Homo sapiens: one gene and its partners. The protein of the gene in region 2 purifies or fractionates together with the protein of the main gene of each other region. This does not show direct contact. Each region holds a gene or a part of one and is shown on either strand. Other genes may lie near its edges. The genes, in order: LIMD1, MAP3K6 and PCDHA4.

The links.
Region 1: the proteins of MAP3K6 (region 2) and LIMD1 purify together in Homo sapiens (affinity purification with mass spectrometry; 2 studies listed by BioGRID and IntAct, with this or other methods). This does not show direct contact.
Region 3: the proteins of MAP3K6 (region 2) and PCDHA4 purify together in Homo sapiens (affinity purification with mass spectrometry; 2 studies listed by BioGRID and IntAct, with this or other methods). This does not show direct contact.

The regions. Positions count from the first base shown.
Region 1 is NC_000003.12:45,673,474-45,683,909, forward strand, and holds part of LIMD1 (LIM domain-containing protein 1), read left to right. Parts: coding exon 1-32; intron 33-869; coding exon 870-938; intron 939-3,448; coding exon 3,449-3,586; 3' UTR 3,587-10,436. UniProt on the Homo sapiens protein: Adapter or scaffold protein which participates in the assembly of numerous protein complexes and is involved in several cellular processes such as cell fate determination, cytoskeletal organization, repression of gene transcription, cell-cell adhesion, cell differentiation, proliferation and migration.
Region 2 is NC_000001.11:27,355,387-27,365,822, reverse strand, and holds part of MAP3K6 (mitogen-activated protein kinase kinase kinase 6), read left to right. Parts: intron 1-910; coding exon 911-1,050; intron 1,051-1,138; coding exon 1,139-1,162; intron 1,163-1,428; coding exon 1,429-1,619; intron 1,620-1,737; coding exon 1,738-1,906; intron 1,907-2,274; coding exon 2,275-2,381; intron 2,382-2,801; coding exon 2,802-2,972; intron 2,973-3,069; coding exon 3,070-3,182; intron 3,183-3,572; coding exon 3,573-3,732; intron 3,733-3,955; coding exon 3,956-4,118; intron 4,119-4,195; coding exon 4,196-4,303; intron 4,304-4,427; coding exon 4,428-4,477; intron 4,478-4,570; coding exon 4,571-4,666; intron 4,667-4,814; coding exon 4,815-4,902; intron 4,903-4,984; coding exon 4,985-5,118; intron 5,119-5,454; coding exon 5,455-5,582; intron 5,583-5,828; coding exon 5,829-5,965; intron 5,966-6,263; coding exon of another isoform or gene 6,264-6,300; coding exon 6,301-6,406; intron 6,407-6,956; coding exon 6,957-7,114; intron 7,115-7,211; coding exon 7,212-7,404; intron 7,405-7,503; and 19 more. UniProt on the Homo sapiens protein: Component of a protein kinase signal transduction cascade. Activates the JNK, but not ERK or p38 kinase pathways.
Region 3 is NC_000005.10:140,801,334-140,812,419, forward strand, and holds the start of PCDHA4 (protocadherin alpha-4 isoform 1 precursor), read left to right. Parts: upstream 1-5,734; 5' UTR 5,735-5,854; coding exon 5,855-8,239; coding exon of another isoform or gene 8,240-8,251; exon of another isoform or gene 8,252-11,086. Other genes in the region: PCDHA3 (protocadherin alpha-3 isoform 1 precursor), read left to right, coding at 1-2,258. UniProt on the Homo sapiens protein: Calcium-dependent cell-adhesion protein involved in cells self-recognition and non-self discrimination. Thereby, it is involved in the establishment and maintenance of specific neuronal connections in the brain.

The DNA of each region.
Region 1 (10,436 bases), on a different chromosome or scaffold from region 2:
CAGCCTGTGGGCTTCCCATCCTTCCACCTGAGGTAAGATGCCCTTCCAGACATGCTCCCAGGGGCTTCTAAGACATGAATATCTCCCTGGGCTCATTTACAAGATCCATGTCCTGTCCTTACAGCTTTTAAGGTATCCTTTTAAAAATCTCAACTCTGGCCTGGTGCAGTGGCTCACGCCTGTAATCCCACCCCTTTTAGGAGGCCCAGGCAGGAAAATTGCTTGAGGCCTGGAGTTTAAGAACAGCCTGGGCAACATAGCAAGACCTCATCTCTACAAAAAATTGTTAAAAATTGGCCAAGTGTGGTGGCATGTGCCTGTAGTCCTAGCTGCTTGAGCCCAAGAGTTTGAGGCTGCAGCGAGCTATGATGGTGCTACTGCATTCCAGCAGGTGACAGCAAGACCTTGTCTCCAAAAAAAAAAAACCAAAAAAAACCCCACTTCACCTTTGAGATAAGTCGTGTCTTCACCCTTCCTTGTTGACTGGCTTCCCCAACCCAGTACCCTTCTTGTGCTGATTTGTCCCCATAACCAGGTCAAACTCCCTTACTTGATACTAATTCTTAGATTAGCAGATGAGGAGAAAGGCTTGTCTTTTCTTCATTTTTTAAAATAAGTGTCCATGTAGGTCTTTCTTTCAGTGTTAACTCTGACATTCTAGAAGGAAGGACTCCTATCCCTCCTACTTCCCCTCTCATCAGCTTAAATGTATTCTTCTTCCAGTAAGTACTCCTGATTTACCTTCTCCTCCCAAGGCCACCTACTTGTTACCCCCAAAACCCTCTTCCCTCCCCACCCCACGGTACATCAAGCCCGACAGCCCCCCTAACAGGCCTCTCCTATGTGTTCTTGCTTTTCTCTGGTCCCAGGGCTCAGATGAGACCATCCGTGTCGTGTCCATGGACAGAGACTACCACGTGGAGTGTTACCACTGCGAGGTAGACCCCTCCCCACCCAGCCCCCAAAGCCCATTGTAGACATCCAAGAGAAAAGCATCCTGCGTTGACTGGGGCAAGAGGCAGTCAACAAGATTCTGGCAAGGGTCAGCCCTCTAGAGCTTCTGTAGGAAATGGAATGAAGGCTGGTTCTTGGGGGAGGTAGGAGAAGATGGAAATGCTCAAGGTATAAAGGTCTTTCTTCTGCATATTCAGAACTATCAAGTCCTGCAACTGTTGGAGCTGCTCTCCCTGAAGCTGCAGAGCTAGGAGGGTCGTGGAGAGCATGGGTTTCAGGTCCTATCTGCGGGCCACATTGTCAGGCAGGTGTGCGATTTGGGGAAGGGACTCCCTCCCCTCCAGCTTGCAGGCTGTTCTATCTGCCTGAAGCTCCTTTCTCAGCTGAGCCCTGGAAATCATGAAGCCCCTCTTGGAAACAGGCATGTCAGCTGGTGGTGTGAAGGCGGGTGGGGTCCGCCTGCCCCTTCCTGCCCTTTGTCCCAACCCAAGATGAAGGAGCACTAGTACCTGATGACTGTCAGGAAAGCTAGAGGTTGCCCCTCACCAACCCTTGTGAAGGGTGACCATGGAATTTCAGCCACAATTAAGTGAATTCACCCATGGAAGGAGATTAGATTCATTTGGTGACCCTGTGGGTAGAGAATGGGGGTGTCCCTCATATAGACTTGTCCCACTGCCAACACTGAAGAAATGGGTGGGAATCATTGCTGCTGGGACCCCAGGTGCCCCAGGTCACTGCAGGAGAAAAAGGTGAGGACATTTGCTCAACAGGCCTCTCCACATTTTCTAGACCAGTGCTATCCAAAAGAAATATAAGGGGCCGGGCGCGATAGCTCACGCCTGTAATCTCAGCACTTTGGGAGGCCAAGGCCGGCAGATTACTTGAGGTCAGGAGTTCGAGACCAGCCTGGCCAACATGGCAAAAACCCATCTCTACTAAAAATACAAAGATTAGTGGGCGTGGTGGCACACGCCTGTAGTCCCAGCTACTCGGGAAGCTGAGACAGGAGAATTGCTTGAACCTGGGAAGTGGAGGTTGCAGTGACCTGAGATCATGCTACTGCACTCCAGCCTGGGCAACAGAGCAAGACTCCGTCTCAAAAAAAGAAAGAACTATGAGAGCCACAAATTAAAGTCATGTATCATTTTAAGTTTTCTGGTAGTCACAATTAAAACGTTAAAGAATTATGAGAGCCACAAATTAAAGTCATGTATCATTTTAAGTTTTCTGGTAGTCACAATTAAAACGTTAAAAGAAACCGGTGAGATTAATTATTTTATTCGGTTCAAAATATCCAGCCAGGCATGGGCCCATGCCTGTAATCTTAGCACTTTGGAAGGCCGAGGCAGGGGGATCACATGAGCCCAGGAGTTTGAGAACAGCATGGACAACACAGTGAGACCCTGTCTCTACTAAAAATACAAAAATTAGCCAGGCATGCTGTGCCTATAGTCTCAGCTACTTAGGAAGCTAGGATCGTGTCACTGCACTCTACTCTGGGTGACACAGCAAGACCCTGTCTTAAAAAAGTAAAAAATCCTGCTGGGCGTGGTGGCTCATGCCTGTAATCCCAGCACTTTGGGAGGGCAGATCACTTGAGGTCAGGAGTTCAAGACCAGCCTGGCCAACATGGTGAAACCCTGTCTCTACTAAAAATACAAAAATTAGCCAGATGTGTTGGCGCGTGCATAATCCCAGCTACTTGGGAGGCTGAGACAGGAGAATTCCTTGAACGGGGGAGGTGGATGTTGCAGTGAGCTGAGATCGCACCACTGCACTCCAGCCTAGAAAACAGAGGGAGACTGTCTCAAAAAAGAAAAAAAAATCCAAATGTTATCTTTTGAACATGTAATCAATATAAAAAAGTTACCCATGAGATTTTTTTTGTAACTCCACAATTTATTTTATTTCTTCTAAAAAAAAAAAAGGGATACGTGTGAAGATTTATTACATAGATATATGTTGTACGTGTGCCAGGGTGGTTTGCTGCACCTATTGTCCCATCCTCTAAGTTCCCTCCCCTCACCCCCACCTCCCAACAGGCCCTGGTGTGTGTTGTTCCCCTCCCTGTGTCCATGTGTTCTCATTGTTCAACTCCCACTTATGAGTGAGAACATGTGGTGTTTAGTTTTCTGTTCCTTTGTTAGTTTGCTGAGAATGATGGCTTCCAGCTTCATCCATGTCCCTGCAAAGGACATGATCTCATTCCTTTTTCCCATGAGATATTTTTACATCCTCTTTTTGTCCTAAGTCTTCGGAATCTGCATTTACACTGACAGCACATTTTAAGTGGTTCACAGCAAGTGCCTTGTGGCAGTGTCTCCTGTGTTGGACAGGCCTCCACGGGGCAGGAGCTGTGTTTCTGCACTGGCATTTCCTGCCTATACAGAAACACACAGCACCCTCTGCTGATTTTGGGGACTGTGGCCTTCAGGTCAGTCTTGCAGTCTGTTTTGTTTTGCTTCCCCTGGACATGTCTGCCTCCCCACAGGACTGTGGTCTGGAGCTCAATGATGAAGATGGCCACCGCTGTTATCCGCTGGAGGACCACCTGTTCTGTCACTCCTGCCACGTGAAGAGGCTGGAGAAGAGACCCTCATCTACAGCCCTTCACCAGCACCACTTCTAGCCAGAGCCACTTGCAGACATCACGGCAGGGGATGAGGAGCCGGGGTTGCTGCTGCTGCTTCCGGTGGCCCCTGGGGTGGAAGTGGGGTAGGGGAAGAGGAGGGGCAGGAGGGAGAGTTCCTGTGAGCATGTGGGGGGTGCCTTTCCTTTAACCAGGGAGGTGAACACTACCTGCCTCCTGCGTGTATTTTCCAAGTGCTTTTCTCTGTTGCCACATTTTCCTCAGGTTACTCAGGAAAATGCTCCAGCATGTGCGAGCACATGACCTGAGGTTGCATCATAGCACCAAAGGAATCCTCCTGTCCCCTCTGGGAACATTTCATGCTTCAGAGGGAGAGGTTTTTATTGAGCTTGTTTCACAATATCCCCTTGAAGGGACAGCTCAGCTGCCAATACATTCAACCCTTTCTCTTCCTTCAGGAAAATACCTATACCCAAATGTTCCCTCCCCCGACATATATCATGGCATGATTTAAGGCTTCTTTTCACCTGAGAGCTTCAGTTCTTCTGCAGAATGGCTGCAAATTTAATTGCATTAAGGCAAGAAGGAAGCTCTAATGTGTGCTTTGTATCCTAAGATAAATTTGCTTAGAAAACCAGAGTCAAGATTTGAAATAGGTGAGGCAGGGTTTCCTCCTTAGACACTGACAGCATTCTCTGTACCCCTTCAAATCCTTACTCTCCTAAAGGCAGCTGAGTCCGCGACAGAAATTTGCCCTATGTGAGTAAAACATACTTTGGGAGAAGAACTTGGTGCAGGCACCAGGATTTTTTTTTTTGCCCACGTGTTTGCGCTGTTTTTCTCTGGAGTTCTCAAGAGTTGGTGACTTGGAAGGCCGCTTCTGCAAGGCAAGTCTCAGGAACCCATGCAGGTACATCGCTTGCACCTGTTTTTAGCTTATTTAATGACGGGCTTTTGGGAAGAGCTGCCCGCATACTGAGAGACAGCTTCTTATAAACAAGGAGAGTTTTTGTGTGTGCGAGATCTCTAAGCCAGCGTGGGAGGGAGCGCCTCAGGATAAGTTATTATATTCATTTCGTTGGTTTCTCTCCTGCCCAATTCTTGGCACAGGCATTATGTTTGAAGAAACCAGGATAAGGTACACTGCTTTTGTCTGTTTAATTTTTTTAGTTGTTTCCCTTCACTTTCAGTCTTCCACACACAAAAAATACCTCACAGAGCTTCACCAAATCACAGATTCAGGAGGAATTTGGCTTTCACACTGGACTCAGATACCTTCTTCAGTGTGTTGGAAATCACTGGCTTCACACAGGCCCAACTCCAGCTGGTCAGGGCAGAGTGATCGTAACTAAAGGTCAGTGGGGAATAGATCCGATTCAGTGCTTTTGCCTTATGCATTTCAGCATCCTGGCTCCCCAGGGTGGCAGGAGCTGAGGGAGGGCCACACACTGGCAAGATTTCAAGACCACTCTCTGCACTGAAGAGGTAAAATTTGCACTGCAAGTCACATCCCTGAGGCCAGAGGTCAGTACCCTTTGGTATTTCGATTAGAAGAAGCTGCAAAAGAAAGGCAGCCCATTTTACCATTGCCAGCCAGGCCGGGGACACAGGAGCCGGTGTGTGCACTCTGCCTCCTCACCTTGCACCCAGAGCAAGAGGACTGGGTGCTGGGCTGCAGAGGCCGGTCAGTGGAGCCCCTAGCACGTGTGAACTCAGGCTTTTCATTGGGCCCGGCTCCACTTCTAGGCCATGTTTTGACTCATTTGGTAACCATTGCCTGTAAGCAGCACAGAATTGGTGCCATGGATTATCTTTTCCATGTTGATGGAATTCATTCTGTTGGAATCCTTTGGCCAGATGTCACTTCAGCCAGGGTGTGCATCATCATTGGTTCTTTTTCACAGGCTGAGCCTCCTGAAAACCCATGAACGCTGGGGCTGGGGAAGTGAACCCTGAGGTGGGGACCCTCTCTTCCCATCAAATCATCCAGCTCAGTGTGGGGCGTGGCAGGGGGGTAAATGAAGCCAGCCAATGTGTTAACCTGTCTCTGTCAACCTAAGAATGTTGGCCTTACTGACACACCTTTGCTCCATGTTCAAGACCAGAAGTAGCTGGGATTTGTTTGCAAATTGGGTAATTAGTTTAAAAATCTGTGATTACATTTTTAAATGAAATTTTCAAAGTGGCCTAGATTGAGGTGATTCAGATAGGTTTGCGAATATACCATTTTATATTGTTGAGAAAGAACAAAAAGGGAATTTCCAGATGTCCTAGAAATCCTAGCAACAGATTTCTCTGGTTGTCAGTTTCCCTGGAGAAGGCGCCAGATAGGAATCTCCAATCAGTTGTTTTTCTCTTCGCTTCAGGCCCTTACACAAAAGCCATGAAGAGATGTTCACCTACCCGGTATTTTAAATGTTCTGTAAATTATTAGCCAAATAGAACTGTAATGGGGTTGTATTTATGGGCGCCTAGAAAGAAAACACAAGGACTTGGTAGGCCAGGAAGAAAAGATTTTAAAATTTAGAATGAATAGCCCTTCTGGGTTTTCTTTTTGACAATTCTTGGACTTGAGGTAAAACAAGGAGGATTGTGGCCGGATTTCAGATCCCAAAGCCAGCCTCCATCTTAGGCCTTTGCCTCATTGTGCCTTTTAGGTTTTCTTACCCACCGTCTCCTGTTTTGTCTTTTTTTTCTTTTCTCCTACCCCTATCTTGGGACATTCAGAAACTGCCTGGGTGGTTTGAGAAGAGACAACCCAGTTTGATCTGCAATACAAGGATCCATTCGTAATCTCTCTCTCACTGATGTTATTCCCCCATCTGCCGTCTTGGTTCATCTCACCACAGAAGGGCATTTAGTCCTACCCAGCCATCGGCTGCGTATGACAGCAGGATGGCACTTCCCATTTCTCTGTGGTTAGTGCTCGAGTGAAAACCTCTTTCAGCTGAGTCCTCTGAGGTTCTGCTGTTGAGTCCTGGGTGGCTGATGGAATGATTGAGGAGGTCTGGTCACCCTCAAGCGCCGTCATCGCCTTGTTTCCATGGGCTTCTGTCACACAAAATGAAGAACAGAAATGTTAGGACTTAAGAGAATGTTTGGAATTCACACCTCTTTGCAGTCCTTTCAAGGCTGCTGCTCTGTGCTGTGTCCCATGCATGTGAAAGTAGAGCTGTGATGGCTGCTGGGACGCTTGCAAAGATCATGTGTGAGAATTGAGCACAAGACCACAAATTATTACTGCTTGATGCGCTTGTTAAAACTCTATCTGCCAGGAAACCAAATTTTCTTTTCTTTTCTTTTTTTTTTTGAGACAGGGCCTCACTCTGTTGCCCAGGCTGGAGTGCAGTGGCGCGATCTCAGCTCACTGCAGCCTCCACCTACTGGGCTCAAGTGATCCTCCCACCTCAGCCTCCCGAGTAGCCGGGACCACAGGCGTGTATGACTGGCTACGCCTGGCTAATTTTTGTATTTTTAATAGAGACGAGTTTCACCATGTTGCCCAGGATGGTCTGGAACTCCTGGGCTCAAGTGATCTGCCCACTTCCGCCTCCCAAAGTGTTGGGATTATGGCCATTAGCCACTGTACCTGGCACAATTTTTTTTTGTACCCTCCTTTATGCCAAGAATCAGTCCTAATTTCTTTACTATGTGAAGTAACTTTTAAAGGTAATAGAAAAGGCCAGGCACAGTGGCTCATGCCTGTAATCCCAGGCGCCGTGGCTCACGCCTGTAATCCCAGCACTTTGAGAGGCTGAGGCGGGTGGATCACTTAAGGTCAGGAGTTAGAGACCAGCCTGACCAACATGGTGAAACACTGTCTCTACTAAAAATACAAAATTAGCTGGGTTTGGTGGCGCACGCCTGTAATCCCAGCTACCTGAGAGGTTGAGGCAGGAGAATCGCTTGAACCTGGGAGGCAGAGGTTGCAGTGAGCCGAGATGGTGCCATTGCACTCCGACCTGGGCAACAGAGCGAAACACTGTCTCAAAAAAAAAAAAAAAAGTAACAGAAAAAAGAGTGAAATATATTAGCTATCTTTTATTCTGAGCCAAAACTTGACAGATGTGGGAAATCTTCATATAGTGTATGAAAATTTCATTGTACAGGGAAATTATTTTCCTCTGTGTCTTTTCTTTTACTATAAAGTGATTCAGAATTTTACTGTTACTATAAAATTATGCAAAGTATTGTGACAAAACTGCATCAATTTGTTGACTATTAAAGTGCTCCTTGAACATTATATTTCCTGGGTCTTTTCTGTGTGTGGAGTCAGCAAACTGTTTTTTGCTACCTGGACTTTGTCTTCTTTTACAGCTCTGGATTCTTAAAAGTACCACATAGGTAGCAAACCTGTGAAGGGTATGAGATTTTACCCTACTTGCAGGCTAATAAAGTGAGCACACCACATGGGTTCATGGATCCTGGCAGAAGTTATGAGACTCATAGGTCAGAGACAAAGGACAGTTTATTATAGCAATAGCAGTGGCCAGATTATCAGCATTTACACTGGTTCCCTGAGCCCCAGGCCCCAAGAAGAGGGCCAGGTGAGACCTGCACACGCAGTGGGCTGCATTACAAGAGGAACCCCCATGCTTAGGGGACCCTGGTATTTGATAATGGGCAGTAAGCCTGCCTGACTTTTGCTCCAGAGACAGACACTATCTCTGTCATCCAAGACTGTTCACTAGATAAACATCCTTGAAAATATAAGTCTGGAACCTGGCAATTGGTGTCTATTCTTACCAGATGTATAAAAATGTGAGAGGCCTTGGAGAATCATATCCCAAGAATCAGCAGTTTCTTTTACTGGACCTTTAAGATTGAGACTTGTAAGGTCCTGATGCAGTGACTTGTAAGGTCACTTTGTCTCTCTTGTGAATGTTACTGTTTTTTCTCTTCTGAGGTTATGACCAAAGAATCCTCAAGGCGAGTGATCCTTCAGGTTTGAGACAGCCACATGCAGGAAGACAGGACTTGTAGAGTGTTGGGGCCAAGTGTGTGGTTAGAATCCTTGGGGTGGGGAAAGAGTTTGTTCTAGACTCCAGTGTAGTCCTTGTGGCTACCAGGTCTGACGTGCCAAGGACACGGGAAAGCTGGGAGTGAGGATACTCATAGTCATAGCACCTTACACCAGAATAAAAGTTTTTTTTTTCTTTTTAAGTGATGAGAGAATGGCTAGTCTGATTTTGCCAACATGGGCTGCTATTTGCTTAAGACCTTGATGGTATAAGGAGTGAAGATGCAATCAGGGTAAAAGGCGGTCTGGAGTTGTGGTGTGCTGGCAAACCAGCCCTCTGGGGCAAAAAATTAAAAAGCCTTGATATGGAGTGTTTGCTGATACCTATGATGTAAATATTCCCGCCATGGCCACTTTCCAGCTACCAGCAAGGCATCCTGGCACCAGGGATTGGGAGGAGATGGCATAGTCCTAAGAGTCAGCCTTGGGCATTGGGCCATGTGGGACTGGGCAGTGGGGTATCTGGTCTGGTTCTAAGTGCTGTGATGAAGCAGTAGCAGCTGTAATAGCTGGCATTTCCCGTGTGCTCATCACATAGCAGATGTTATTCCAAGGACTGTATGTTCTTTATCATCCCTCATTTGATAGACAAGACAACTGAGACACAAAAGGGTGAAATAAACAGTAAGTACTCCATCCCAGGCCATCTCATCCAGAGGGTGCTGTCTTGACCACTCTACTACTCTGGTTGATGGGAGGCAGTAAATTGTCCATCAGTATACTTCTTCATCAAAGCTACATAGTCAAAAAGCCACAGGAGGCTGTGAGGAGAAGCTCACTGCTGCTCTGTTGAAGTCTGTATTGGTTTCCTATGGCCACTCTTAACAAATTACCACAACCTCAGTGGCTTAAAACAACACAAATATATCATTCTGTCATCCTGGACACGAGCCAAAGGTTGTCGGCAGAAGCGAATTGCTTCCAGAGGTGCTATAGGGTGCTGCCCATTCCTTGCCCCTTTTCCGCTTCTAGAGGCTGCCCATTTTCCTTGGCTTGTGGCTGCATCATTCTGGCTGCTTCTATTGTCACACCTCCTCTCTGACCCTCCCTGCCTCCTTGTAAGGACACTTGGGATTACGCCCATCCAGATAATCTAGAATAATCTCCCATTTTGTGATTCTTAATAACATCTGCAAAGCCTCTTTTACCTTGCAGAATAAGATATTCACAGGTTCTGGTGAGGAGGACAGGGACATCTCTGAAGGGGAGGGAAGCAGGAGATAGGGTCTGGAGGCATGGAATTGGCTTCCTAAGGCCAATTCAGGCTGACTTCCTAGAACTAAGTCAAAAGGAAAACCCCAACTTTCCACGCTCAAGTAACAAAAGGACCAGAGGCTACTCCCTTTGCAACCTCCCCACCCCCAGCCCCTTTTCTGCATGGCAGGTGAAAAATTGAAAGTATCGCTAATTGATCCCCTCCCACAACCAATCAGACTGGTCTTAGGCCAAGTCTTCATTTGCCTAGGAGTATAACTTTGTAACTTCAGCCTCTGATTGGGCGTTTTACACAACCAGTCAGATGTTTGTATAGGGTGGTGTAACTTTGTAACTTTGCTTCAGCCTCTGATTGGTCCCCTCCCACAACCAATCAAACTGATCATGGACCTCTGCTTCATTTACATAGGGTGTACACCAAGTAACCAATGGGAAACCTCTAGAGGGTATTTAAATCCCAGAAAATTCTGTAACCGGGTTCTTGAGCTGCTTGGGCTGCTCCCACCCTGTGGAGCGTACTTTCGTTTTTCAATAAATCTCTTTTGTTGCTTCATTCTTTACTTGCTTTGTGCGTTTTGTCCATTTCTTTATCAAGACGCCAAGAACCTGGACACCCTCCACCGGTAACAGGAGGAGCATTAGTCAGCCTACCAC
Region 2 (10,436 bases):
GACTTAGGGAAAGGGGCCGGGAGGCTGGAGTTCAGGAGTCCTAGCATACTATTTCCAAGGATCGGGCTAGGAGAGGCAAAAAGAGAAGCGAAGGGGCCCGACGGGACTGGATACTGGGTGAGGGAGCTTAGGTTAAGTGGCCTCAGCGGCCCAGAAAGAATGGGCGGGGAAGGGGCGGGGAAGTGGGCGGGAAAGGATGGCTCAGGGGCGGGGCCAGAAGGAGGCTATTCCCCCGCGAGTCACTCCTCCCTCCAGCCAGCCCGGATGCTCGGCCCCCATACTTACTTGCTTATGCTAGAGTCCAGTAGCTGTGCTTCCTGGATGTCCATGAAATCGTAGCCTAAAATGAAGGCTGACCCGACCACTCGGACACAAAGATACAATTATCGACAGACACAAATCGCATACATGTTGACTCATGCAGGCCCTAGCAGACGCTGTCACACACACAGATACAGTCAGACATAGTAAGCTATACATGTCACAGATATACACATACATACATTTAGGCACAGCGTTGTCTATGCACACTGATGGTAGCCCCTTTCAAGAGCCTGTGCTGAAGACCAAAGGGAGGGGACTTCTATGTTTGCGCAACTCCCACCTCCTAAATGGCCCGTAACAGACTCAACTGGTCCACAGCCTCCCTTCCCCCATGCCAGGTGCTCACAGGCTCTGAACCGTGGCCTGAGGGTCCCAACCCAGTGAGCCCAACTCCTCTCCTGCAACACTACAGAGATCAGTTCTGTGAAAGTGCCAGGGGAACCCTAAAAAGGGCCGACTGAAGCCCAAAGCAGAACCAGACCCTACTGGAGTCCCACAGCAAGGCAGGTCAAGCCAGGATGGACCCCGGCTCCTTCCCCATCAAGCTGGGCTTCAGGGATCAGCGCCACCCCCTCTGTGCCTGCAGATGTGGTGGTGCTGGAGGTGAGCAGCTCGCTGGTACAGCCCTCCCTGTTCTACCACCTTGGTGTGCGTGAGAGCTTCAGCATGACCAACAATGTGCTCCTCTGCTCCCAGGCCGACCTCCCTGACCTGCAGGCCCTGCGGGTAGGTGGCCTGGGGCTGGTGGAGGCAGGCACAGGGCTGGGGTAAGGCCTACACAGAACACCAGTATCTGACTGTCTGCCTCCTGCAGGAGGATGTTTTCCAGAAGAACTCGGTGAGCAGAATCCACCTCTCACTCAAAAGTGCCCTTTGACTTCCGCTATGACCTCTGACCTCCACTAATCCCCCTGGCCTCCTCAGTCACCTAACCCCCCACTGACATCCCAAGTATTCCTCTGTTTCCTGTTGCCTCCTCTCATGACGGGTGCCCCTTTCCTGCGATTCCAATTCCCACTGATGCTGACCTTTGATGCTCTCACTCCCCTTGTCTAGCCCTGTGCTGACCTCTGACCTCACTGATTCCTGCCTCCCTCCCACCAGGATTGCGTTGGCAGCTACACACTGATCCCCTATGTGGTGACGGCCACTGGTCGGGTGCTGTGTGGTGATGCAGGCCTTCTGCGGGGCCTGGCTGATGGGCTGGTACAGGCTGGAGTGGGGACCGAGGCCCTGCTCACTCCCCTGGTGGGCCGGCTTGCCCGCCTGCTGGAGGCCACACCCACAGACTCTTGGTAATGAAGGCCCCCAGGGAGGGTGCTCCAGGAGGGGGCTGGTGAGGGTATGGTGGGCTGGGGCTGAGGTACAGGCCCCACCATTCTCTCTCCCTGCCTCCCCTACCCTGGGCATCAGTGGCTATTTCCGGGAGACCATTCGGCGGGACATCCGGCAGGCGCGGGAGCGGTTCAGTGGGCCACAGCTGCGGCAGGAGCTGGCTCGCCTGCAGCGGAGACTGGACAGCGTGGAGCTGCTGAGCCCCGACATCATCATGAACTTGCTGCTCTCCTACCGCGATGTGCAGGTGCGTGGTGTTCAGAGAGGCAGTAGGGCAGCTGGCATTTGAGGTCAGACAAACCCAAGTTCAGTTCCTGGCTGGGCCACTTGCTCACTGGTGGCTTTGGGCAAATTATCCAATGTCTCTGAGTGTTGGCCTCCTTATTTGTTAGAGAGGATGAGCATGTCGCTGCCTCCTGGGGCAGTTGTGGGGTTGGGAACGCCCAGCATGGGGCATACAGTAGGTTCTCCCTGTGAGGTGTGTCCGCTGGGCCTGAGGGAGGCGTGCAGAAGATGGTGGCTGGGTGGGATGTCAGGAGTGGGACAGGACCCTGGCTCAAGGTTCCTTGGGGCCTGGAGGCCCATGATGCCAGTGCTTGCCGTTCCCTGATGCAGGACTACTCGGCCATCATTGAGCTGGTGGAGACGCTGCAGGCCTTGCCCACCTGTGATGTGGCCGAGCAGCATAATGTCTGCTTCCACTACACTTTTGCCCTCAACCGGTGAGTGGCAGAGCAAGGGTTAGGTCATAGCCACATAAAGGTTTCCGAAACCTAGGTCTCTGCGTGCAAAGCCATTGCTGTCTGGGATCACTGCTGTTCGGGGAATTTGCTGACCGGGGTCACTGATGTCAATAGGTCCCTGTTGTTCTGAGTTACTGCTGCCTGGGTCGGGGTGGGGGAGGTGGTGCTGCCTGTGGTATGGTCACCGCTGTCCAAGATCACTGCTCCTAAGAGTCATCGCATCTAGGAATCACTTCCATCTGAGGTCACTAGAGAGGTCAGTGCTGGCCAGGGTCATTATCATTTTGAGGTCATTATTGTCAGGCCCCTGGAAGGGTCCCTGCTGGTTCAGTGTCTAGAGGTCCCTGGACAGAGTAGGCCAGGGCCATCAGGGAGGGCCTGAGCCCATCTTTTCCCTAGGAGGAACAGGCCTGGGGACCGGGCGAAGGCCCTGTCTGTGCTGCTGCCGCTGGTACAGCTTGAGGGCTCTGTGGCGCCCGATCTGTACTGCATGTGTGGCCGTATCTACAAGGACATGTTCTTCAGCTCGGGTTTCCAGGATGCTGGGCACCGGGAGCAGGCCTATCACTGGTAAAGAGCACAGTGAGTGGCCGGTGGGCTAAGCTGTGAGATGAGGGGTGGTGCTGTGGGCATCAGTCCAGCCCTGTGCCCCCTACCCCCACCCCAGGTATCGCAAGGCTTTTGACGTAGAGCCCAGCCTTCACTCAGGCATCAATGCAGCTGTGCTCCTCATTGCTGCCGGGCAGCACTTTGAGGATTCCAAAGAGCTCCGGCTAATAGGTGAGCACAGATCCTGGCTCTTGTCTCGTCACCCACAGGGGTTCCGAGGGGCCTGGGAAGAGGGCAGGGAGAGAGCACACTGGGCAAGAGCTAGGATGAGCTCATCCATTTTGGACTGTCCTGCCCATACCCACACCTGGGTCCTCATACCTGTTCTGGGCCCTCAGGAGCCCTCAAACCCACAAATGTTCCCAAACTCACATCTGCGTGTCCATTACATCCTGAATTCCACATATACCTGTGCCTGAGCTCCTGTTCCCACCCGAGATCTTGCCATACTCAATGCCATACTCATATCTATGTTCATGTCCACACTCGGGCCCACAGAAATGGTGGGCCTCACTCACCCCTGCACCCACACTCACTGGAGCCCATGCCTCTCTCCCCCAGGCATGAAGCTGGGCTGCCTGCTGGCCCGCAAAGGCTGCGTGGAGAAGATGCAGTATTACTGGGATGTGGGTTTCTACCTGGGAGCCCAGATCCTCGCCAATGACCCCACCCAGGTGGTGCTGGCTGCAGAGCAGCTGTATAAGCTCAATGCCCCCATATGGTAGGTGGCCCCCTCTGCATTCTTGGCCTGACCTGGGCTGTCAGCTCCTGCACCTATGTCCATTGGCATGCTAGACTGAACCCTGAGCCAATGACCTGGCTGCTTTTAGACCAGTGCCCGTGGCACCCCATGCCAACGTTCTAGCTATATCCAGGCCAGTTTCCTCTCCCTGGCAGTGCTGGTTGGTGCCTGGGCTGAACTGAGGATGTGGCTTTGCATGCAGGTACCTGGTGTCCGTGATGGAGACCTTCCTGCTCTACCAGCACTTCAGGCCCACGCCAGAGCCCCCTGGAGGGCCACCACGCCGTGCCCACTTCTGGCTCCACTTCTTGCTACAGTCCTGCCAACCATTCAAGACAGCCTGTGCCCAGGGCGACCAGTGCTTGGTGAGGCCTGTAGGGGTGGTGGACCCGGGAAAGGGGTAAGCCCCTTCTGACTGACCCCACTCCCCAACTGCCTGCAGGTGCTGGTCCTGGAGATGAACAAGGTGCTGCTGCCTGCAAAGCTCGAGGTTCGGGGTACTGACCCAGTAAGCACAGTGACCCTGAGCCTGCTGGAGCCTGAGACCCAGGTGAAGTCGCTGCTGAGGCCCCTCACTCACCTTTGCTAGGACCTTTTCTGTGGAGCCTTTCTCCCATCCTCAGACCCCTCTCCTGTCACCAGCACTCCCCATCACACCCCATTTCTTCTTGCAGGACATTCCCTCCAGCTGGACCTTCCCAGTCGCCTCCATATGCGGAGTCAGGTGATAGGCGGGACCTGGGGTGACTGGAAAGACGGGAGGTGAGGGTCGCTGCCACCCAGCCTGACGCTTACTGGGTTCTTCATCCCTTCCCAGCGCCTCAAAGCGCGACGAGCGCTGCTGCTTCCTCTATGCACTCCCCCCGGCTCAGGACGTCCAGCTGTGCTTCCCCAGCGTAGGGCACTGCCAGTGGTGCGCAGCCTTTCATGGTCGGGGTACTCTGAGGGCCAGGATGCCCGGGGGGGAGTGGGGGAAAGAAAGGGACGACGTCCGTTGGATGCTCCGGCTTAGGTGGGGACCAAGATGCCCCTCCCGCGGGTCTGACCTCCCCCACCTTCAGGTTCTGCGGCCTGATCCAGGCCTGGGTGACGAACCCGGATTCCACGGCGCCCGCGGAGGAGGCGGAGGGCGCGGGGGAGATGTTGGAGGTGAGGACGCGGGACTGGGAGCTCGCGGAGGGCGAGGGGCCGCGGGCCCTGCTGAACTCCCATCTCACCCCGCGCCCGGCAGTTTGATTATGAGTACACGGAGACGGGCGAGCGGCTGGTGCTGGGCAAGGGCACGTATGGGGTGGTGTACGCGGGCCGCGATCGCCACACGAGGGTGCGCATCGCCATCAAGGAGATCCCGGAGCGGGACAGCAGGTGCGGTGCGTGGCAGCGCGGGTGGGGCTGAGGGCTCGCGAGGGCCGAGTGAGCCGGGCCACGAGCGGAGCGGCTCCTGTGGGCGGGGCCTAGTGGGCGGGCTCGTAGGACCTGAGAGTTCGAGCCCTGTGGACTGGGCCCGTGGGCGGAACAGCCAGGACCGTGCGGGCGGGATTGAGGTCTGGAGGGTCCTGTGGGCAGGGTAGTAAGGGTGGGGAAGGTCGGAGAGGGCTTGTGGGCGGGGCGGGTCCTTGGGGCGGGGCCAGGCTGGCGTGGGATGGGCGGGGCTTCTCTGCCCACCTCGGTCCCTTTCCTCTCTCCCTTACCTCCCCTCAGGTTCTCTCAGCCCCTGCATGAAGAGATCGCTCTTCACAGACGCCTGCGCCACAAGAACATAGTGCGCTATCTGGGCTCAGCTAGCCAGGGCGGCTACCTTAAGATCTTCATGGAGGAAGTGCCTGGAGGTACCTGCCCTGTGTGGGATGGGAATGAAACCGAGGTGTGAAGCATGGGACCGAGGCAGGCAGGGGTAGAGAGCCCTAGGGGGAAATGCACCCTAGTGCGTGTGGGTGGTGTAGCCTAGAATTAGCTGAGGAGTGGCGCTGGGTGATGGAGTTGGGCTACAACATGGGTGTGTCTGGGCCTTGAGCAGAGAGATGTGGGCTGGAGCCAGTGGGTGGGAAGAATGAACTTGGACTGTCCCCACCCAGGCAGCCTGTCCTCCTTGCTGCGGTCGGTGTGGGGACCCCTGAAGGACAACGAGAGCACCATCAGTTTCTACACCCGCCAGATCCTGCAGGGACTTGGCTACTTGCACGACAACCACATCGTGCACAGGGACATAAAAGTAAGCCCTGGGGCTGGCCCGCCCTCATCTGCTGAGGGTGGCGGGGAAGGAAACATGGTCCCAGACGCAGGCTGGCAGTTTAGATTAAGTGAGCAGACCTGTTGCAAAGGGTAGGGAATTCATCAGGGAGGCTCCTTAGAGAAGGAGGGGAAAGGTTCAGCTCTGAAGCCAAACCAATTGTCAGCTCCCAGAGGGGCATATAAGTGGGATGGCAAGGGGAGAGTGTTGACAGAGGCAGGACCAGGCTGGGATCTCCAGGAGATGGGATCCCAGAAAGAGGGTCTACTTCTGCTGGCAGGGGCCCAGACCAGTGTCCACTAATGGCTGTCAATCAGGGGGACAATGTGCTGATCAACACCTTCAGTGGGCTGCTCAAGATTTCTGACTTCGGCACCTCCAAGCGGCTGGCAGGCATCACACCTTGCACTGAGACCTTCACAGGTAACAAGGTGTGGGGGTGGTGAGTGGGGATGCTGACCTGGGGCAGAAGATCTCTTGGAACTTTCCAGGGAAGGGGGTTTCTCCTAGGCATGGAGTTAGAGTCCTAATGGGGAATGAAACCCAGGGTGAGTGATTGGGCCAGGGCTGAGGTGGTGGCATCTGGAACTGGAGCTTGGAGAAGTGATGAAATTGACTTTAGCACTTGAGGAGTGTTGATGCAGGCCAAGGTGGGAGTTGGAGGAAAAAGCAGGTGATGGAGTTCAGGGGGACGAGGCAATCCAGGATGTGTGCTGGAGCACTACTGTGGGTGATGGAGTCTGTGAATGTGGTGGAGCCCAGGATGAATGACGGAAGCCTTGGCAGGCGATGGAGCCCAGGGTGGTGATGGAACTCAGGATAGATGTTTGATGACCAGGATAGGTGTTGAGGTATATTTTGGATGATAGGTTCAGTATGGGTGCAGTCGGCCTGAGGATGACGGCATTCCCCTCCCTGCTCCAACCCCATGATGAAGCCTAGATGGGCATTGGTGCTCCTGTTTCTGTCCTAGGAACTCTGCAGTATATGGCCCCAGAAATCATTGACCAGGGCCCACGCGGGTATGGGAAAGCAGCTGACATCTGGTCACTGGGCTGCACTGTCATTGAGATGGCCACAGGTCGCCCCCCCTTCCACGAGCTCGGGAGCCCACAGGCTGCCATGTTTCAGGTGAGACCTCTTTGGGCCTGGCCCATGGAAGTGGCATAGGGCCAGCCTGGGCCTTGGACACCTCTGAATGTCACCCTTGTTCACCCTCCCCCCACAGGTGGGTATGTACAAGGTCCATCCGCCAATGCCCAGCTCTCTGTCGGCCGAGGCCCAAGCCTTTCTCCTCCGAACTTTTGAGCCAGACCCCCGCCTCCGAGCCAGCGCCCAGACACTGCTGGGGGACCCCTTCCTGCAGCCTGGGAAAAGGAGCCGCAGCCCCAGCTCCCCACGACATGCTCCACGGCCCTCAGGTGCTTGCGGGTGGCGGGATGGGCACAGTGGAGGGCAGAGGAGTTGTGGAGCTGTGAGGGTGGAGGAGAGCCCAGCTGATGGCTCTGTCCCTCCCTCAGATGCCCCTTCTGCCAGTCCCACTCCTTCAGCCAACTCAACCACCCAGTCTCAGACATTCCCGTGCCCTCAGGCACCCTCTCAGCACCCACCCAGCCCCCCGAAGCGCTGCCTCAGTTATGGGGGCACCAGCCAGCTCCGGTGAGACCAAGGCTCCTGGGATGGGTTCCTTTTGCCTGGTTTTGCCTTTTTCTCCTCTCCTACAAAAGCCCTCCCTGGGGACCTGGGCACCTTGACCACTTGTGAATGTGGCATTTGGTGCCTCCCCATGCCCTGTTCTGGCAACTCTAACTTGGACTTGTTGTGTCCTCTCAGTGCGGGGTTTATCTATGTTCATGCCTGTGAGGTAGGCATAAAAGTAGGAGAGCCAGGATTCAAACCCGGCAACAGAGGTGACTGGCCGGTTGCTGCCCGTCCTCAATCAGCAGCTCGCCCTTGTGCCCAGGGTGCCCGAGGAGCCTGCGGCCGAGGAGCCTGCGTCTCCGGAGGAGAGTTCGGGGCTGAGCCTGCTGCACCAGGAGAGCAAGCGTCGGGCCATGCTGGCCGCAGTATTGGAGCAGGAGCTGCCAGCGCTGGCGGAGAATCTGCACCAGGAGCAGAAGCAAGAGCAGGTGGGCGGCCCACTCTAGCGCCCCCTGGTGGTCGCAAAGGGTCAGGACACCTGTTGATGTCCCCGCCCCCTACCTCCGCGGCAGCGTCTCTTTTGGCTGGAGCACTCGCTGACAACCCCTCTCTTCCTTCTCAGGGGGCCCGTCTGGGCAGAAACCATGTGGAAGAGCTGCTGCGCTGCCTCGGGGCACACATCCACACTCCCAACCGCCGGCAGCTCGCCCAGGAGCTGCGGGCGCTGCAAGGACGGCTGAGGGCCCAGGGCCTTGGGCCTGCGCTTCTGCACAGACCGCTGTTTGCCTTCCCGGATGCGGTGAGGGCGCCTTCTGGTAGTTAGAGCTGCCCAACAACAGGTAGTGAGTTCCCCGTGCCTGGTGAGGTGCCAGGACTTGACGTTCCCAGATTCCCTGTCTCCTCTGTGAAGATCAGGCCTGCAGCAAAAAACCGTCTGCCCAGTCCTAGCTTCCCAGGCCTTCCCTGGACCTCAAGCCCGCCCACCCCACTCGCCTCCCGCCGAAGACTTTCTAGGCCTTTCCAACTCAAGCCCTGCCTCTAGTTGAGGCTCAGCTGTCTCAGCGGCGCCTCCCTCCCCCTGCAGGTGAAGCAGATCCTCCGCAAGCGCCAGATCCGTCCACACTGGATGTTCGTTCTGGACTCACTGCTCAGCCGTGCTGTGCGGGCAGCCCTGGGTGTGCTAGGACCGGGTAGGAGGGGAATGCCACGGGCCTCCTGCCAGCGAGGGTGTGGTGCTTGCTGGGCGCGGTGAACATCGAATGGGGCCGGTGGGGGCCAGGCGGGACAGGGGCAGGCAGGCGCCGGTGGGGGCGTGACTAAATGGACATCTCCCATACCGGCACCGCCTGGGGCCTGCCCAGAGCCGGGCACCCTACCCCCGCACTTTGGGGTCTGGGGTTCCCAAACGGGCGTTGTAGCCTTGCCTGAGTTCACCGCACTGGGCTGCAGAGGTGGAGAAGGAGGCGGTCTCACCGAGGTCAGAGGAGCTGAGTAATGAAGGGGACTCCCAGCAGAGCCCAGGCCAGCAGAGCCCGCTTCCGGTGGAGCCCGAGCAGGGCCCCGCTCCTCTGATGGTGCAGCTGAGCCTCTTGAGGGCAGAGACTGATCGGTAAAGCCCCTTGGAATCGCTCATAGCCTCTGCCGGGCTTCAACCCACTCACCACTCACCGCTCCATTCTACTCTTCTGCGCCCCACAGGCTGCGCGAAATCCTGGCGGGGAAGGAACGGGAGTACCAGGCCCTGGTGCAGCGGGCTCTACAGCGGCTGAATGAGGAAGCCCGGACCTATGTCCTGGCCCCAGAGCCTCCAAGTGAGTGGGCCTTGGCTGGAGAACATTATTGGTGGGTTCAAGGCAGCTTCTAGCACAAGGCACCCTTGGGCTCATCACCTGACTTGGGCTCATCACCTGAGCGGGCCTTGGCGGGAGAACATTATTGGTGGGTTCGAGGCAGCTTCTAGCACAAGGCACCCTTGGGCTCATCACCTGACTTGGGCTCATCACCTGAGTGGGCCTTGGCTGGAGAACACTATTGGTGGGTTCGAGGCAGCTTCTAGCAGGAGGCACTCTTGGGCTCATCACCTGACTGCTTCTTGACAGCTGCTCTTTCAACGGACCAGGGCCTGGTGCAGTGGCTACAGGAACTGAATGTGGATTCAGGCACCATCCAAATGGTGAGTCGGGGAGTGCTTGGCTATCCCTGACCTCACCAGCCAAAGCCTCCATCTCTGTCCATCTTCCTGCTCTTCTACTGTGCCCTCTGATGCAGAGAATCTCACTACCAGAAGAACACTTAGTATTCTCGTCCCATTGTATGGATGAGAAAACTGAGGCCCAGAAGGGTGTGATCTGCCTCATTATTTTGGCAACAGAGCAGAGCTAGTACCTGGGTCTCGACACATCTTTCTGTAATTTCTTATTTCCCTCTTTCTGCGGGTCTTTGACCACATCCAGCTGTTGAACCATAGCTTCACCCTCCACACTCTGCTCACCTATGCCACTCGAGATGACCTCATCTACACCCGCATCAGGTACATCCTGGGCCCCCCAAGTGTGAACCATGCATATGGCCTCATCCTGGCCAACTGCAGGCCTGCCTAGGTTCCTTCCTGGAAACCAAAGGGGCACCTGGGTCCCCTAGGGACAGAGGGGGCACTGGGCAGACAGTGTGTGCAAGATAGAGTCCAGGGCCACCTTCTGGCTGAGCCACACTGAGTCCATTACCCCCAGGGGAGGGATGGTATGCCGCATCTGGAGGGCCATCTTGGCACAGCGAGCAGGATCCACACCAGTCACCTCTGGACCCTGAGAGC
Region 3 (11,086 bases), on a different chromosome or scaffold from region 2:
GCCGCATCGCGCAGGACCTGGGGCTGGAGCTGGCGGAGCTGGTGCCGCGCCTGTTCCGGGTGGCGTCCAAAAGACACGGGGACCTTCTGGAGGTAAATCTGCAGAATGGCATTTTGTTTGTGAATTCTCGGATAGACCGCGAGGAACTGTGCGGGCGGAGCGCGGAGTGCAGCATCCACCTGGAGGTGATCGTGGACAGGCCGCTGCAGGTTTTCCATGTGGAGGTGGAAGTGAAGGACATTAATGACAACGCGCCAGTTTTTCCAATGGCTGTAAAGAATCTGTTTATTTCCGAATCCCGACAGCCTGGCTCTCGGTTTTCGCTAGAGGGCGCATCAGATGCAGATATCGGAACAAATTCGTTGTTGACTTACAGTCTTGATTCCACTGAATATTTTACCTTGGACGTTAAAAGAAATGATGAGGAAATTAAATCCCTTGGACTCGTGTTGAAAAAAAATTTAAATCGAGAGGACACTCCTAAGCATTATTTACTAATAACAGCAATTGATGGTGGGAAACCAGAGCTCACTGGCACGACTCAACTAAAGATCACTGTTTTAGATGTAAACGACAACGCCCCAGCGTTTGAGAGGACGATCTATAAAGTCAGATTACTCGAAAATGCACCAAATGGTACCCTAGTGGTGACCGTTAACGCCACCGATTTGGATGAAGGAGTAAATAAGGATATCGCGTATTCTTTCAATACGGACATGTCAGCAGATATTCTGTCAAAATTCCATTTAGATCCAGTCAATGGACAAATCAGTGTAAAGGGTAACATAGATTTCGAGGAAAGTAAGTCATATGAAATCCAGGTAGAAGCCACGGATAAAGGAAATCCCCCAATGTCAGATCACTGCACAGTTCTACTCGAAATTGTGGACATCAATGATAATGTACCTGAGTTAGTTATTCAATCACTATCTTTACCTGTATTAGAAGACTCTCCACTTAGCACAGTCATCGCTCTGATCAGCGTGTCCGACCGCGACTCAGGAGTCAATGGACAGGTCACCTGCTCGCTGACGCCCCACGTCCCCTTCAAGCTGGTGTCCACCTTCAAGAATTACTACTCATTGGTGCTGGACAGCCCTCTGGACCGCGAGAGCGTGTCGGCCTATGAGCTGGTGGTGACTGCTCGGGACGGGGGCTCGCCTTCACTGTGGGCCACGGCCAGCGTGTCCGTGGAGGTGGCCGACGTGAACGACAATGCGCCGGCATTCTCGCAGTCCGAGTACACGGTGTTCGTGAAGGAGAACAACCCGCCGGGCTGCCACATCTTCACGGTGTCTGCGCGGGACGCGGACGCGCAGGAGAACGCCCTGGTGTCCTACTCGCTGGTGGAACGGCGGGTGGGGGAGCGCGCGCTGTCGAGCTACGTGTCGGTACACGCGGAGAGCGGCAAGGTGTACGCGCTGCAGCCGCTGGACCACGAGGAGCTAGAGCTGCTGCAGTTCCAGGTGAGTGCGCGCGATGCGGGCGTGCCGCCTCTGGGCAGCAACGTGACGCTGCAGGTGTTCGTGCTGGACGAGAACGACAACGCGCCGGCACTGCTGATGCCTCGGGTGGGTGGCATCGGTGGCGCAGTGAGCGAGCTGGTGCCGCGGTCAGTGGGTGCGGGCCACGTGGTAGCGAAGGTGCGCGCAGTGGATGCAGACTCAGGCTACAACGCGTGGCTTTCGTATGAGCTGCAGCCTGGGACCGGCGGTGCGCGCATCCCGTTTCGCGTGGGGCTGTACACGGGAGAGATCAGCACGACCCGTGCCCTGGACGAGGTGGACGCCCCGCGCCATCGCCTACTGGTGCTGGTGAAGGACCACGGTGAACCCTCATTGACCGCCACGGCCACTGTGCTGGTGTCGCTGGTGGAGAGTGGCCAGGCACCCAAGGCCTCGTCCCAGGCGTCCGCTGGCGCCACGGGCCCGGAAGCTGCACTGGTGGATGTCAACGTGTACTTGATCGTCGCCATCTGCGCGGTGTCCAGTCTGTTGGTGCTCACACTGCTGCTATATACTGCTCTGCGGTGCTCCGCGCCGCCAACCGAAGGCGACTGTGGGCCGGGCAAGCCCACGCTGGTGTGCTCCAGCGCGGTGGGGAGCTGGTCATACTCGCAGCAGAGGCAGCAGAGGGTGTGCTCTGGAGAGGGGTTGCCCAAGACCGACCTCATGGCTTTTAGCCCTAGCCTTCCTCCTTGTCCAATTAGCCGGGATAGAGAGGAGAAACAGGATGTGGACGTTGATCTCTCAGCCAAAGTGAGTAATTTTTATTTATTCTTTCCAAAATGTCTTTGTTTTTCATTCCTCAATGTTTCCACTCCTCTGGAAATACATTAATAGTTAAGTATGAATTATGTGATTCATAATTAGACTTTTCCAGTTTTGTGGTTTTGTGGTTAAAACGGTAAGATTTTTGTTGCTAATTTTTGAACCAAATCAGCAGTAAGTTATGATATCCACACTTGTAATTTTGTTTTGTTATTAGGTGCAGTAGTAGAATTATTTTATTGCTAAATGCCTGGGTATAAGACAAATATTTTTTCTTAGATGAATTGCATTATTTAGAGAATCTGACTTCGACTTGTTTTATACTTATCCCTATACAATGCTTCTTCAATATCTTTTGCCACTTTTCATTTGGACTTCCTACTACCTGTTAGTACAAATGTTACTTGCTCATTTTATGAGTTCACCTAATGCTTATAACTCCCTATTGATTATGCTTTTCCACCTTCAGTTTCAAAAATTAGATCATTACACCTGTTGTCTTTTATGGAACCTCTTTTATTCTCTTATTCACTTGTTTGGAGTCTCAATCCTTATTTTTTACTTGAATATGATTCATTTTAGGCCTTGTGCTCTAATTTGGCAATACCGTTTATTGTTTCTTGATTTCCCAGTTGGGAAAAAAATCGAGAATAACAATTGCATTTAGAATTGCATCTTTGTTCATCTTTAGTTTATCACTACTTTATTTAATACTACTTTAATAATACTACTGTATTATATGTTAAAATTTATTACTAATAACTAAAATATCAATATGAAGTGAAAATTTAATAGTTGTATAGTATATTTATATATTCATTTTAAAAGAATGTTTTAAATCTTGTTAAAAATAATTTTCAATCTGAACAATATCTTGAAAATAATTATGGTATCTAATTTTAAAACTATCCCTACTAGCAAAACTTTTTATTCATTAGTGTCTTTTGCATACCATACTAAGGATGCTAATATGAAATAAGTTTGATAAGCCAATGTTATAATGTTATTACTGGTTAACTTCTCTGAATAGCATCCTGCCTATTAATGTGTGCCATGCAATAAGTAGAAAACTCCAAATAACCAGAACCAAATGAAATTGAAGGTAGACTTTTTTCTAATCACTACCCCTACATATTTGGTTATCTCCTCTAGCAATTAGTTGGACTCCCATTTAAGTTTCCCTACCACTGGAGAGAAATAGTAACCAACTGAAACCTGGTTAATACTCATTGACAGTGTGGGAGGTCTAACACGTAAAATAGATATTTTTCTTGACTCCTCTCCTTCCCCTCACTTCCATTTTCTTTATTTCCTTTTTTGGCACTATCCTTTGTTGCTCCCTTGTCCATGAAGTAGTAGCCATAGTGTGTCCATCTCAGGTCAGTATTTTAAAAATTTAGTTCTGTTATCAGCTTCTTGAATATAATAGAGTCAGCCAAAGTACTTGTCTTCCCAGATATGGAACTTCAATCTTCAAATCCAGCTTGCCTCTTGAAACTATTGTCTAACAAGACTCTTGGCAAAGACATTTTGAAGACTTTGGAATTTTCACTTCACAGATGTACTGATGCTATGCCAAATAAATATTGAATAGCTACCAAATAAACATTGTTTTCTATTCTGCTGCATTCCCCATCTGTACATTAAAATACCTGGTAAATGAAAATATTACAAATGAAATGGGTGAAAATGGAATTCTTCCTCCTTTTTTCCAATGTGCTTGATGTCAATGATCATTTTGTAAAAATATAGTTTGGGTCCCCACATAGTGAAAGTACTCTGGTTTCTGTTTGATTCAGAAATTTGGTGGGTTTTTTGTTGTTGTTTTGGTTTTTGTGTGTGTGTGTTTGTGTGAGTGTAGTTCTTCAATAGAGAGGGAGCGTAAAGCTATTTTCACTAGATTGATTTTTTGTTTAGACAAACAGGATGAAAATAACTTTATGGATATAGGAGGCAAGGAAAGTTTTTAAATGGCTACCATTATGTCTTTATATATTAAATTTCTTTATGTAAGAAAATGTATTGTGGTTTATTTATTGGGAAGTCTTCATTCCCCATTAATACCCAGGATGATTCAAAGATCATGATTACCAAGAATTAGAATAAAAATTAAGCTAAAACCCAAGTTTTCAACATTGAACTTGAAATACATCTTAATTGGGGAAATGTCTAGAGACTTTTTTTGTATCTTTAGAAAATCATAGAGGCTATTGAAACACCACATTTTCCCAACTAGATATGCGATCACCTTAAATTAATGCATTTTATTAGGCAATGGAAGGAAGCAAACATTTTCTGCAGGGTAAATATTTAGGAAATATTAGGTAAGTCCCTCTGAGCTATTAAACAATTAAGATACAACTATTCCCTTTAAAATATATATTCCAAAAAAGGACACACATACTCAAATGCTTATAAGAGATAAATTAATGTAATAAATGGCCCACGCGATTCCACCCTGGTGCTGCAGTTTGTAAAAGAAGAAAAAATACCTGTTCAATTGGTTTGATCATGACATTCTTCATGGGTCAGGGAAGTTTTAAGTGGTTATAAAATGGGGTAAATTGGCTTTAGAAGAGTTTAGAAATGATGTGGATTACTTATAGACAGGACAAAATGAACATGCTTGTTTATTAAAAAAAGCTATTGGAAGCAGGAAATATTCAGTTTGGCTAAAATATATAAGCACTATAGGAGAAAATAGAAGCTTAGGCACATTACATACTGGAGAACAAGCAAGTACTTATAAACTGTAAGAGTCAAAATGAGAATACCAGCGTTTCTCATGGGAGCAAATGAGTTCCAATGAATAAAATTATTTGGAATGCTTTTCCATGCAAGCTATTTGCTATAACTTCCTGCTTCCTTGCACTTTCAGCCCTGACATGACTCAAGGAAGACATCTAATTAAATGCTGATGGTCTTTGATCCTTTTATAAAACATCTGCAAATTTCCCTGTCAATAGCTTGTTCTTGGCACCAGAAGTTCCCTAGAGACCAGTCCCCTCAAGTCAACAACACCAGAAATACTAGGGTGAAGAGGGTGTTATCATTAATAAAAAAAAACCCTGGAATTCTTGGGAACACAGGAATCTGTAATGAATTTTTCTAATCAACAGTTTACAGTTACATGTTTACAAAGTGTATAGTTAGGTCTCTGTAATACTTAAAACCTGTGTTGAAAAAATTATTTCTACTGAAGTAAAAGTTGCCCCTATGGCGAAACTAAGGACCACACTCAATCAATCAGTGGTACAATGTGTACCACAGTAGTACAAAATGTATTCCTATTCTCCGAAACGACTGAAATAATAAATAAAACCAAGTAGTTTACAGTAGAGTGTGTGGGGGTTTCCACAATTGCTACTTACGGTTTGGAGCCACATGATGTCGCTCTTTACCACAAAATACATGAGAGAAGGAGGAAGAAGGGAAAATTCCTTCTATTCTTACTGGAAGGAACCATATACACTCTTTGGAGTCTGAAATATGGAGGATGCAGCTGCACTTGACTGACCGATTAAAAGATTTCCCTTGACTTTGAGAAACGATATTTAATCAGAACAAAATACTGTGCACTAAAGATGGAGTTTTCCTGGGGAAGCGGCCAGGAATCCCGGCGTCTGCTGCTCTTACTTCTTCTCCTCGCAGCCTGGGAGGCAGGGAACGGTCAGCTCCACTACTCGGTCTCCGAGGAGGCCAAACACGGCACCTTCGTGGGCCGCATCGCGCAGGACCTGGGACTGGAGCTGGCGGAGCTGGTGCCGCGCCTGTTCCGGGTGGCGTCCAAGGGCCGCGGAGGCCTTCTGGAGGTAAATCTGCAGAATGGCATTTTGTTTGTGAATTCTCGGATCGACCGGGAGGAGCTGTGCCGGCGGAGCGCGGAGTGCAGCATCCACCTGGAGGTGATCGTAGACAGGCCGCTGCAGGTTTTCCATGTGGACGTGGAGGTGAGGGACATTAACGATAACCCGCCGGTGTTCCCAGCAACACAAAAGAACCTGTCCATCGCGGAATCCAGGCCGCTTGACTCTCGGTTTCCACTAGAGGGCGCCTCGGATGCAGATATCGGGGAGAACGCCCTGCTCACTTACAGACTGAGCCCAAATGAATACTTTTCTCTGGAAAAACCACCTGATGACGAGCTGGTAAAAGGTCTTGGGCTTATATTACGGAAATCTTTAGACAGAGAAGAAGCTCCGGAGATTTTTTTAGTGCTCACAGCCACTGATGGAGGCAAACCCGAGTTGACTGGCACCGTTCAGTTACTCATCACAGTACTGGATGCCAATGACAATGCCCCAGCTTTTGACAGAACCATTTATAAGGTGAGATTACTAGAAAATGTTCCTAATGGAACATTGGTAATTAAACTTAACGCCTCAGATTTAGACGAAGGATTGAATGGGGACATTGTTTATTCATTCTCAAATGATATTTCGCCAAATGTGAAATCCAAGTTTCACATAGATCCAATTACTGGACAAATTATTGTAAAGGGATATATTGACTTTGAAGAAAGCAAATCCTATGAAATTATTGTAGAGGGCATTGATAAGGGACAGCTCCCACTTTCTGGCCATTGTAGAGTTATTGTGGAAGTAGAAGACAACAACGATAATGTCCCAGATTTGGAATTCAAGTCTTTATCACTTCCAATTAGAGAGGACGCTCCACTGGGTACAGTCATCGCCCTGATCAGCGTGTCCGACAAAGACATGGGTGTCAATGGGCTGGTCACCTGCTCCTTGACGTCCCACGTCCCCTTCAAGCTGGTGTCCACCTTCAAGAATTACTACTCGTTGGTGCTGGACAGTGCCCTGGACCGCGAGAGCGTGTCAGCCTATGAGCTGGTGGTGACCGCGCGAGACGGGGGCTCGCCTTCGCTGTGGGCCACGGCCAGTGTTTCTGTGGAGGTGGCTGATGTGAACGACAACGCTCCGGCGTTCGCGCAGCCCGAGTACACAGTGTTCGTGAAGGAGAACAACCCGCCGGGCTGCCACATCTTCACTGTGTCTGCGTGGGACGCGGACGCGCAGGAGAACGCGCTGGTGTCCTACTCGCTGGTAGAGCGGCGGGTAGGGGAGCGCGCGCTGTCGAGCTACGTTTCGGTGCATGCGGAGAGCGGCAAGGTGTACGCGCTGCAGCCGCTGGACCACGAGGAGCTAGAGCTGCTGCAGTTTCAGGTGACCGCTCGCGATGCCGGCGTGCCACCTCTGGGCAGCAACGTGACGCTGCAGGTGTTCGTGCTGGACGAAAACGACAACGCGCCAGCACTGCTAGCGCCTCGGGCGGGTGGCACTGGTGGCGCAGTGAGCGAGCTGGTGCCATGGTCGGTGGGTGTGGGCCACGTGGTGGCAAAGGTGCGCGCGGTGGATGCTGACTCGGGCTACAACGCGTGGCTTTCGTACGAGCTGCAGCCGGGGACTGGTGGCGCGCGCATCCCGTTCCGCGTGGGGCTGTACACTGGCGAGATCAGCACAACGCGTGCCCTGGACGAAACGGACGCTCCGCGCCACCGCCTACTGGTACTGGTGAAGGACCACGGCGAGCCCGCGCTGACGGCCACGGCCACTGTGCTGGTGTCACTTGTGGAGAGTGGACAGGCGCCAAAGGCCTCCTCACGGGCGTTGGTGGGCGCTGTGGGTCCCGATGCTGCGCTGGTGGATGTCAACGTATACCTGATCATTGCCATCTGCGCGGTGTCCAGCCTTTTGGTGCTCACGCTGCTGCTGTACACCGCGCTGCGGTGCTCTGCGCTGCCCACCGAGGGCGCGTGCGCTCCGGGCAAGCCCACGCTGGTGTGCTCCAGTGCGGTGGGGAGCTGGTCATACTCGCAGCAGAGGAGGCCGAGGGTGTGCTCTGGTGAGGGCCCACCCAAGACCGACCTCATGGCCTTCAGCCCCAGTTTACCTGACTCTAGGGACAGAGAAGATCAGCTGCAGACAACTGAGGAATCCTTTGCAAAGGTTAGTGTATAACATCCTTTTGTTTAATTTTCGTATTGTTTTTCTCTATCAACTTCTTCGTAAATTTATTTCTAAGAGTCAAATTTCCCTGGGTTAAAATTTTACCTCTTTTTACATATCCATTTTAACTAAAGTCTTTTGGAATTATAGGACATCAGAGCAATATATATTGCCTTCCTTCATTTTATGCTGCATTATTCAATGCATATTAACAGAACTGTAATTTCTAGTAAATTTTCACTATATTCACCCTCTTTGTTTTTGGTAATAATCAACATTTTAGAAAACATTTTACTATTATTTAACCTATTACATATAAACAAATGTGCACAGGCTGAAATAATAAAGCTCCATAAATTGTATGAAAGTGAAAAGCTCCGTTGCCTCCATCGCTGAAGCCCCTCGCATGCACCTGCCAAATCACTTCCCTTATTTTTCCTCCAGTGTAACCGCACATTTGCCTTTTATAACTGTTTGTTCGGGGCCTGTTTTGGGAACGTTATCTAATTGGACTTGCACAACATGTATTGTCTGTGCATTTGTGTGTTATTTGTATTTATCACTCATTGTTTATGAAATTATCCATGTTGTTATATGTAGTTGTAGTTTATTTATTTCTGTTTCTAGTACTATTTCATAAATATACTATACCTTATTTATTCTACTGTTCAGGAATTTGCATTGTGCCTCAATGTCTATTTCAAATAATGCCATCATAAATATATTGTACATTTCTTTGATGCCCATGTACACAGATTTCTCTCAGGTTTTTGCCTAAGAGTTGTGTTTGTGGGTCACAGAATATGTGTGTATCTTTGTCTTTTGTAGCTAACACCAACCAATTTTCCAAGATGTTTTTACCTGTTTACATTCCTAGTAGTGCATAAGGCTTTCTGCTGGGCCACATCATCTCTACATTTGTCAGGTTATTTTCATGTTAGCCATTTTACTGGGTGACTTTTGTAATCTCATTTTGAAATTATTTTATATTTAAATGAAGTTGAGTACCTTTCTATTTTATTTTGGCAATTTTTATACCTTATTTTGTGCAATAGCTGCTCAAATCTCCTATTTCTCTAGTCTGTTGTTTTTCTTTTCTTTTTTCTCTTCTTTTTGCTTCCATAGAACTTTATTTATTTCCTTATCTTGTTTTTCTTATTACTTAAACAAATCTTGTATTCTGAACATAACTCCTTTTTTTAGTAGTTTTCAACCTCATGGCTAGTTTTTAATTCTTTTTTGTCTTTTGGTGAATAGAAAGTCATAATTTTGATTAAACTCAATTTATCAATTTTTGCTTCTGATCCTATTTCACAAAGATAATTTTCTGTGGTATCTTTTATTTCATTGTTTACATTACATCTACAATCCATTTGGAATATACATATTTTTATCATTGTTGTGAGGTAGGGGTCAAGATTTATTTTTATTTCTTCTTATTATTTTTATTATACTTTAAGTTCTAGGATACATGTGCACAACGTGCAGGTTTGTTACATAGGTATACATGTGTGCCATGTTCGTTTGCTGCACCCATCAACTCATCATTTACATTAGGTATTTCTCCTAATGCTATCCCTCCCCCAGTCCCCCACACCTCAACAGGCCCCAGTGTGTGATGTTCCCCACCCTGTGTCCAAGTGCTCTCGTTGTTCAATTCCCACCTATGAGTGAGAACATGCAGTGTTTGGTTTTCTGTGCTTGTGATAGTTTGCTCAGAATGACGGTTTCCAGCTTCATCCATGTCTCTACAAAGGACATGAACTCACCCTTTTTTACGGCTGCATAGTCTTCCATGGTGTATATGTGTCACATTTTCTTAATCCGGTCTATCATTGATGGACATTTGGGTTGGTTCCAAGTCTTTGCTATTGTGAATAGTGTCGCAATAAACATACATGTGCATGTGTCTTTATAGTAGCATGATTTATAATCCTTTAGATATATACCCAGTAATGGGTCAAATGGTATTTCTAGTTCCAGATCCTTGAGGAATCGCCACACTGTCTTCCACAATGGTTGAACTAGTTTACACTCCCACCAACGGTGTAAAAGCGTTACTATTTCTCCACATCCTCTCCAGCATGTGTTGTTTCCTGACTTTTTAATGATTGCCATTCTAACTGGTGTGAGATGGTATCTCATTGTGGTTTTGATTTGCATTTCTCTGATGACCAGTGATGATGGGCATTTTTTCATGTGTCTGTTGGCTGCATAAATGTCTTCTTTTGAGAAGTGTCTGTTCATATCCTTTGCCCACTTTTTGATAGGGTTTTTTGTTTTTTTCTTGTAAATGTGTTTAGGTTCTTTGTAGATTCTGGATATTAGCCCTTTGTCAGATGGGTAGATTGCAAAAATTTTCTCCCATTCTGTAGGTTGCCTGTTCACTCTGATTGTAGTTTCTTTTGAAGATTTATTTTTTACTACCATTTTTTTGTTGGACTTTTAAAATGAGTTTGGAAGTGTTCCCTCTCCTTCAATTTTTTTTTTTTGGAAGAGTTTGAAAACAATTATCATTGATTCTTCTTTAAAAGTTTGGTAGAATTCTCCAGGAAAGATATCTGGTTTTGGGCTTTTGTTGTTGTTGTTGTTAGGAGGTTTGGATTACTGATTCAATCTCCTTACTAGTTACAGCTTTGTTTAGATTTTTTATGATTATGTCTTGGTAGTTTGTATGTTTCTAGGAATTAATCAATTTCTTCTAGGTTATTGAATTTTTTGGTATATGATTTTAAAAGCCTCTTATAATTGTGGCATCAGGTGTAATGCCACCTCTTTTGTTTCTGACTTCCAGTCTTTTTGTTTTTTTCTTAGTCTAGCTAAGGGGCTTGTCAGTTTTGTTGTTTT